Linked DNA regions of Homo sapiens. The protein of the gene in region 1 interacts with the protein of each later gene in a pairwise test. Each region holds a gene or a part of one and is shown on either strand. Other genes may lie near its edges.

What was found. Proteins that work in one complex are often made in the same cells at the same time.
Region 2: the proteins of SFT2D2 (region 1) and ELOVL4 interact in binary tests that used the Homo sapiens proteins (3 or more experiments, as listed by UniProt).

What each region holds. Positions count from the first base shown.
Region 1 is NC_000001.11:168,224,355-168,228,828, reverse strand, and holds the start of SFT2D2 (vesicle transport protein SFT2B), read right to left. Parts: upstream 2,826-4,474; 5' UTR 2,750-2,825; coding exon 2,687-2,749; intron 1-2,686. UniProt on the Homo sapiens protein: May be involved in fusion of retrograde transport vesicles derived from an endocytic compartment with the Golgi complex.
Region 2 is NC_000006.12:79,920,018-79,923,893, forward strand, and holds part of ELOVL4 (very long chain fatty acid elongase 4), read right to left. Parts: intron 1,780-3,876; coding exon 1,608-1,779; intron 1-1,607. UniProt on the Homo sapiens protein: Catalyzes the first and rate-limiting reaction of the four reactions that constitute the long-chain fatty acids elongation cycle.

The DNA of each region.
Region 1 (4,474 bases):
TACCTGGATGGAATTTGTAGGCAATGCGCTCACAGGCAGTCTGACTGGCAGTTATTCACAAAGGTCCCTTTCACTCTGTGATGTGGAGAGAAGAGGGGCTCTTGCCAAGAATAATACTAAGAATTGTTCAGAAAAACAGGATTGGTAACCAGAAGAAGGTAAGAAAGAAATACTGCTTCATTTCCACACTTTAAAATTAGATACTATTCATACCTTTCTTGTCCCCAGAATCCTTTATAAAAAACATAAAACCTATACTTTCAGAAAGAAGTCCATTGAAACTAAAGACTTAAGGTGTATTTATGAAGATGAGGTATCAATCACAAAATTCAACGTGAGGCTATAATTAGATACTGCCATGCAAATTTTATAACTACCTAGGAGAGGTAGGAGAAATAGAACTAGTCACACCTTTATGGTTTGCATTAAAGGAATAAAGGTTTTAAAAAGCACTCTCTTCTAGTGACCTCTTAAAGAGATTTTAAGAGCGCCTAATTCAACTTACCACACAAAATAGCAATTTCCCCACAGAATCCTCCAGTTCTACCAGCCCCCAAACCATGAAAAATATGAGACAATCAAATCAGTACCAATATTTTAAAGGAGGCTCTGACCTAATCAGTAAACACTAAGCTGAAACAGCCTGCAAGATGAAGTTAGTCGGCAACAAAACATTTCCTAGGAATTCAAGACTCTGGAAGTGCCATACAATGATGTTATAAACAGAAATCTCACTCAGAAAGAGGAAACTGACCAACTGACCAAAGTATTTTAAAACAAGAACGAAGCACCTATTCTTTTTAAATTAGATCCAACAGATGCCTCAGCATAACACATTAAAGCCCTTCTCACAGTATCCAACACAGACGTTCACCATTTTAGGTTAAAAACAAGCTCAGCATTTATGTTTGCAAACTTTACTAGTCGTCCACTGTTGAGGGTCAGCCCACTGCTTCGTGATGATTTTCGAGACAATAATATCTGCATCATCCCACTGTCAACACTCCACCCCTCAAGAGTCTGCAGGGAGAGAAAGTGTCTGCCTCTTAAGCACCAATTGTTCATAAAGGCTTGTTGACAGTCTATGGAAATAAAGCTTTAAATAACGAGGGTCAGCTACCTATGAGTCAGACCTTTCTTAGGCCCGGTCTGAGGTTCCACTTGAGATTCATAATAGAGGCTAGAAATCAAGAAAAAAAAACCCGTGAAATTACTCTGAGCCTTGACCAATTAATAAAGGCAACAAATTAAAAAGAACCCACCAACTTGTTTTGAAATATCAAAAAGTTAAATTTCAGTGACTCCAACATTCGATCCCATAGAATTACTCCCTCAAGGTGAAGATTCAGAGAGCAATCTTACATTCGGAGATGTCATGCTAAGTCCCAGTATCACACAAAACAAAACCGAATAAAATCAGCAACCACAAACGTGGGTGAAAGCAGCTTGCTGAGAAAGAAGAACTTGCTGAGAAACCAGAAGAAACACTGATTAGTTTCCAGTTGGCCATATCATCTTAACATCCTCATTTCACAGATGGGGAACGGAGGCTAAAGAATACACCAAAAAGCGAAGAGAAACGTTATTTTGTCATCCAAAAAGGAAAACAAAAGCTAAAAGCACCCTAAATAGAAATGCAGCATTCTGTGTGGTTCTACAACATAGGACATTAGTGGCCAGGTTTCAGCACGATCAAAACTTTTCTAATAGGCCGGGCGCGGTGGCTCATGCCTGTAATCCCAGCACTTTGGGAGGCAGAGGTGGGCGGATCACTTGAGGTCAGGAGTTCGAGACCAGCCCGGCCAAGATGGTGAAACCTCGTCTCTAGTAAAAATACAAAAATTAGCCGGGTTTGATGGCGGGTGTCTGTAATCCCAGCTACTTGGGAGGCTGAGGTGGGAGAATCGCTTGAACCCAGGAGGCAGAGGCTGCAGTGAGCCAAGATCGCGCCACTGCACTCCAGCCTGGGCGACAGAGTGAGACTCTGTCTCAGAAAAAAAGAAAAAAAAGCTTTTCTAATAAAACAAACCAACACGCAGGCAGTCTCCTGAGGCGCTGGGTGTCTAGAGACTAGTTGTGGGCAGTGTGGACAGAGACACAAGATGTGGTCCCTGTCCTCATGGGATGGGGGCAGTTTCTCACCCCCAATCACAAGGCAATGTGTACAGGGGCGGGTGGGAGTGTCACACCCTACAACCTAAACCGGACAGAAAACCAAGGCAGAGCTCGGGGCGCGGCCACCAGCCCCGTCGCGAGGTAGGGACCGCCACCCCAACACCCCAGTCCGGGTCTGGGGCCCCGACCCACCCAGCAAAGGCTCCTTCCGCCTGGACCTCGGGGCCCCCAGCCCTACCCGGCCCTAAAGCGCATTCCCCGGCCGGTGGGGCCGGGGCCGACAGCCCAGTCGCCCACCCTCCCACTCGCAGCTCAGTCCGGGGATTTCCTCCTGCGCCGCCCCCTTGTCAGGGAGGATGGGCTGAAGGGGCGCGGGGCAGAAAAGGACGCCGCGGCCACTGCCCCGTGTAGTGCCAGACCTCTTCGCGGAGCCCTGCAGAAGAAGAGGAGGAGAAGGGGCAGAGCTACCGTCCAGAAACTCCAGGGAGTCCCCGCAGGCTTCCCAGGCCCGGGCAGGGGACGCAGGGCGGGAGCGCGGCGAGAGGGGGCCGACGGCCCCGGGCTCACTCACCTCGGACAGGCCGCTCCGGTCCTCCGTGTCCTGCCCGCTCAGCACCTTCTTCAGCTTGTCCATTGCGGCCCAGTCCCCACCAGCTCCAGCTCCTCAGCGGCAGCCTGTTGCGCTCGCTAAGTTGACGGCTCTTCCGGGTGCTAGGCAGCCGCCCAGCCGCCCAGGCGCCAACCGCGGCGCGCCCCGCCCAGGCACCTGCCCACCGGGGGGCTCCCGGCATGCCCCGCGCGCCCGCGCTCGCCTCCGCTTGTTTTGGTCCCGGGGGGCGCGGCGGGCCGGAGGGGCTGGGATTGAAGACCACCAGGCGCTGCCAAACACTAATTCGGCGTCCAGAGCAGTTTCAAACCGGAACGGGCCGCGCTCCCTCGCCCTACTTGATCCAGTCAACGAATGCCGAGCACCTACCACGTGCAAGGCTCCGGAGACACAAAGACGGGGGAGAAGCCTTGTGCAGACGGGAACAAAGGCTGTGGTTCATCCATATTGCGATCGTGCCTACACAGGAAAAGATTTTCTTTTTAATCACTCAAGGCCTTAGTCTGGTGTGGTGGGGCGTGCCTGGAAGCCCAGCTACTCCGGAGGCTGAGGCAGGAGGCTCACTTGAGCCAAGGAGTTCCAGGCTGTAATGAGCTATGACCAGGATACTGCACTCCAGCATGGGCAACAGAGCGAGACTCTGTCTCAAAAAAAAAAAAAAAAAAAGTGACTGAAGGAATGTTGAAAGGAATAATAGATTGTTAAATTGTTTTGTGTTTGTACAATTGTTTTTTTTTCTGACCTTAAAAAAACTAAAAGTAGACTGGGCATGGTGGCTCATGTCTGTATTCCCAGCACTTTGGGAAGATGGCTTGAGCCCGGGAGTTCCAGACCAGCCTGGGCAACATAGGGAGACCTCATCTCTTCAAAACATTCTTAAAAATTAGCCAGGCATGCTGGCGGGCATCTGTAATCCAAGCTACTTGCGAGGCTGAGGAGGAAGAATGGCTTGGACTCAGGAGGTCAAGGCTGCAGTAAGCCATGATTGTCAGTACAGTAAGCCACTGCACTCTAGCTTGGGCAACAGAGTGGAAACAATACAAATGGCCACCAACTGATTAATGGTAAATAAAATGTGACATACCCATGCAATAAAAAAGAATGGAGTACTGACACATGCTACAACGTGGATGAACCTCGAAAACATTGTATTAAGTGAAAGAAGTGTGGAGCCCGAAAATTTGAGACAGGTCTCAGTTAACCAGGAAGTTTATTTTGCCAAGGTTGAGGAACAGCACCTGTGACACAGACTCAGGAAGTCCTGACGACATGTGCCCAAGGTCGTTGGGGCATAGCTTGGTGTTATACATTTTAGGGAGACATGAGGCATCCGTCAATATGTGTAAGAAGTACATTGGTTGTGTTTGGAAAGGCGGGACAACTCGAAGCAAAGGCAGGAAGACTCAAGGGGGGAGGGGGCTTCCAAGTCACAGATAGGTGAGAGACAAATGGTTGCACTCCTTTGAGTTTTTGATTAGCCTTTCCAAAGGAGGCAATCAGATGTGCATTTATCTCAGTGAACACAGTGATAACTTTGAATAGAATGAGAGGCAGATTTGTTCTAAGCAGTTCCCAGCTTGAATTTTCCCTTTAGTAATTTGGGGGGGCCCAAGATATTTCCCTTTCACAGAAGCTAGACACAATAGACCATATATTGTATGATTTCATTTATAGGAAATGTCCAGAATAGGCAAACCCATAGAAACAGAAAGTAGACTAATGGTTGCCTAGGGATGGAGGAGGGGAAATGGT
Region 2 (3,876 bases), on another chromosome or scaffold:
CCAGTCAGTCAAACTCAATGACATTCTTTCTTTTCAGAATATTAATTTAATCAAGGTATAGATGTAATAATAATTAATTTTTGTCATAAAGTGATCTAAGTCAGTTCAGATTTACTAATTTTCTTTTAAAATTACAGAAGTTGCCTTTAACTGTATTGTTTTAAACTGGGCCCCCAATAATATATGTATGAATTCCTAAGCTGCCAATTATCATAATATGACAATGGAAAGCAGCAAGGTGAACTATACTATAATGACTTGTACCCTGGATCCTCCTCAGAGGAATAATCTGCATCAAGCTCAACAATGTGAATCATCCTTAATCTACAGGCATCTGAAAAGACAGGAGGCAGATCTTGGCCAAGCTATGAATTTAGATCCTCTTTAACATTAACAAGGCTATATAAAATTTCCTTTGAATAAGAACCAACAAGACCTATACAGGCTGAGTATTCCTTATCCAAAATGCTCAGGACCAGATGTGTTTCTGATTTCAGATTTTTTTAAACTTTGGAATATTTGCATAGACATAATGATGTGTCTTGGGGATAGGACTCAGGTCTAAATCCAAAACTTCATATACACCTTATACATGTATCCTGAAGGTAATTTTATAAAATTTTAAAATAATTTTATGCATTAAACAAAGTTTGTGTACTCTGAACATCAGAAAGCAAAGATGTCACCCGTGTGGACATTATCTGTGGTTGTTTGGCATCAACATTATGCTGTACATGGAAAAGGGCTAAGAGGGTCTTTTTTCCCTTAGGTATACTGAATAAAGTGTGTTCTGCACTTGTGTTTTGACTGTGACCCATCACATGAGGTCAGGTGTGTAATTTTCCACCTGTGGTATCATGCTGGTGCTCAAAAAGTTTTGAATTTTGGAGCATTTGGATTTCAGATGTTTAGATTAGGGATGTTCAATCTGTATTAGGGCAGGAGTGAGCTATGGGCTAAGATGGAAATCTTCAGATTTGAGGGGCTGTGTCTTGGTATTCTTTGGATCAGAACTACTAGACCCGTTCCCCATCAAAATATTGTTTTCTACCTTTAGTCTTGGTTTATGCTCATCTCTGGGGCAAATCTTTAGGTATTAAAGTAGTCACAGATAAAAAGCAAAAGTTATACTTGCCTCAAATTTTTTAAAAAATGAAATGATGGCTGGGTGTGGTGGCTCATGCTTGTAATCCCAACACTTTGGAAGGCCGAGGCAGGCGGATCACAAGGTCAAGAGATCGAGACCATCCTGGCCAACATGGTGAAACCCTGTCTCTACTAAAAATACAAAAAATTAGCTAGGCGTGGTGGTGTGTGCCTGTAGTCCCAGCTACTCAGGAGGCTGAGGCAGGAGAATCGCTGGAACCCGGGAGGTGGAGGTTGCAGTGAGCCGAGATCGCGCCACTGCACTCCAGCCTGGTGACAGAGCGAGACTCCATCTCAAAAAAAAAAAAAAAAAAAAAAAAAAAAAAGAAATGAACATGGAAATGATTAACCATGAAAGCAAGTTAAATGGTAGATCAAGTCAAAGTCCTAGGTTCTCATTGCTTTCCACTGAACACATATATGCAATTAAACGCAAGCAGTATATTCCTGAAAATGCTCACCTTGTCCTCCTGCAACCCACTTAATTCCAATCCACCACAAGGTAAACATCGTACAGTGATGATACACATGAAGGAAAGAAACTTGGTTGTTTTTCTTTCTCAGAATAAAAAACACTGTGTCCAAATACTCAACTCCTTTAGATACAAAGTACCACCACAGAGCAGCAGCTATCTGTAAAAAGGGAAAGCGTGTTATAAACACCAAAATGACACTATTGTATGGGTTTATACTCATTGTAAGTAAGTCCAAAATAAACATTTGTATATTGCACAAAATGTACAAGGCATGGAATCATTAATGGCTAAGTAGGTTTGAAAAACCTAAGCATCTCTCCATGGGGAAAAATAGAAAAGAAAGAGTCCAAAGCTCTATCTATACAGTGCCAATAAGTTAGAGAACATTTTCTGTCTATTCCATAGGTAGATGTTACATAGTGTCAAACTGCTGAATACAGAGCTGGAAGCACATTCAGACTGCTGTGCTTTTCAACTTGGTAGAGGAACTAAGATGTTTACTTTGTAAAATGATTTTAGTTGTTCATGCTTAGCCTACATTATACTACCTCAGAAAAACTTGCAAGTAAGTTCATGTAGCAACTGGTCTCTACAAGTGTCTGCCTGTCTGCCCACCCTCTCCCCTCACCTCCCTCTCTCCCTCACCTCTCCGACTGCACCAATATGTGCAACAACATAAATATCCAATCACAGCAGTTTGTATTAGGTATTAAATCTTTAAAATAAAAAATTGGAATGAACAAACAAATATTTCCCAGGTCATAAATATAATCCTGCTTACATGAATAAGTCTTTTCTTTTCCTGGGCTCTAATTAAGGCACCAGATGGTACAGAAAGATTACATTACATACTGAGATTAAGGATCCAGTGAGAGGTGACCTCTGTATGTTTTAAAATGTTTTACAAGAATCCTACTGTAACAGTAAACCAAACTTAATTTTTTATGTCAAGTATTTTCTATGATAAGCATCCTATGTGCAAATAACAATTAAGGCAGTACATAACTAAAATCTATTTATAAGCTTTCATGTGTTAGGGCCCTGTCAGATTCATTCACAGACAGGCTTAGGTGTTTTAGAGTTGAAGGATCCCTTTGCATTTTATACCTGCACCTGGTATATGTCATGAGATTTTTGTTTGTTTTGGCTTTTGCATTTGAAAAACAAAATTATAATTTTAAAGTATGGGGAAAGAAGAAACAGAAAGCATATAAGAAACAAAGTATTTACAAACTGAGAATTATTTACTGAATTTACTTGAAAAATATCATTAAAAATGATATGAATTGGTTGAAAATAAGCTTGAAATAGTTAACTACTCCCAGCAACACTATAGTTAATATTCACTATTATATTAGTTCTTTAAAATAAAGTAACTGTCACCATTTTGGCATCGTAACCTTTAACTAGAAGGAAAGATACAATCTCTTATTTCTCCTCTATCTGGACCTCTACATTTGCCACAATTCACATAAAATAACAACAAATAAGTCTGCTTAGTTTGCAAACTGCACTAGATATCTTTAAATAAACTACACCAAAAAGTGATACTTCTTGGCTACGTAACAATGAATACAGAAATGAGTCTCTGCGTAAAATATTCACTCTATTGCATCCCATATTAGAGAGGAGAAGAGAGCACGAGGAAGATTTCAAATGAAATCTGTTGCAAATCTCAGGTTCTTTATCCTCCTAGATTACAGTTCTCATAATAGCTCATTTTTTAAAGACTTGAAAATTTACATCTGTAAGTGAGAGTGGTATTTTTAAACCTTTATCCTAAAAATAGTAATATGTTGCCCCACCCAAGGGTTTTTCTATGCATACTCCCAGAAGTCAGTCAGTCAAACACTTATCCCTGTTCCCTTCCCTACGGCAAGCAAGAAGTCAGCCCTCCAACTGAAGAGATTCTTTGGCAATAGTTATCAGAAGAAAATTTTTCATAGCCAATACATCTGAGTAGTCTCTCATTTTCTCTCAGTCACCTTCTAGGTTTTATTTCCTCCTTAGTCATTTGTTTACATGGCTGCTGTCTGCCTTCTCACCCTCACTAAAATGCCAGCCCCACAAAGGCAGGGCTTTTCACCCCTGTCCCCAGTACCAACATATAGTAGATGCTCAATACATATTTAATGAATAAATAAAACCAACATGACAACCAAGACAGGTGATTTTTCATCAGTCCATAAGTCTTCTAATAGGGAAATGAAGATACGTACATAAAATTGTTAAGTACATTAAACCAATTTTGTCT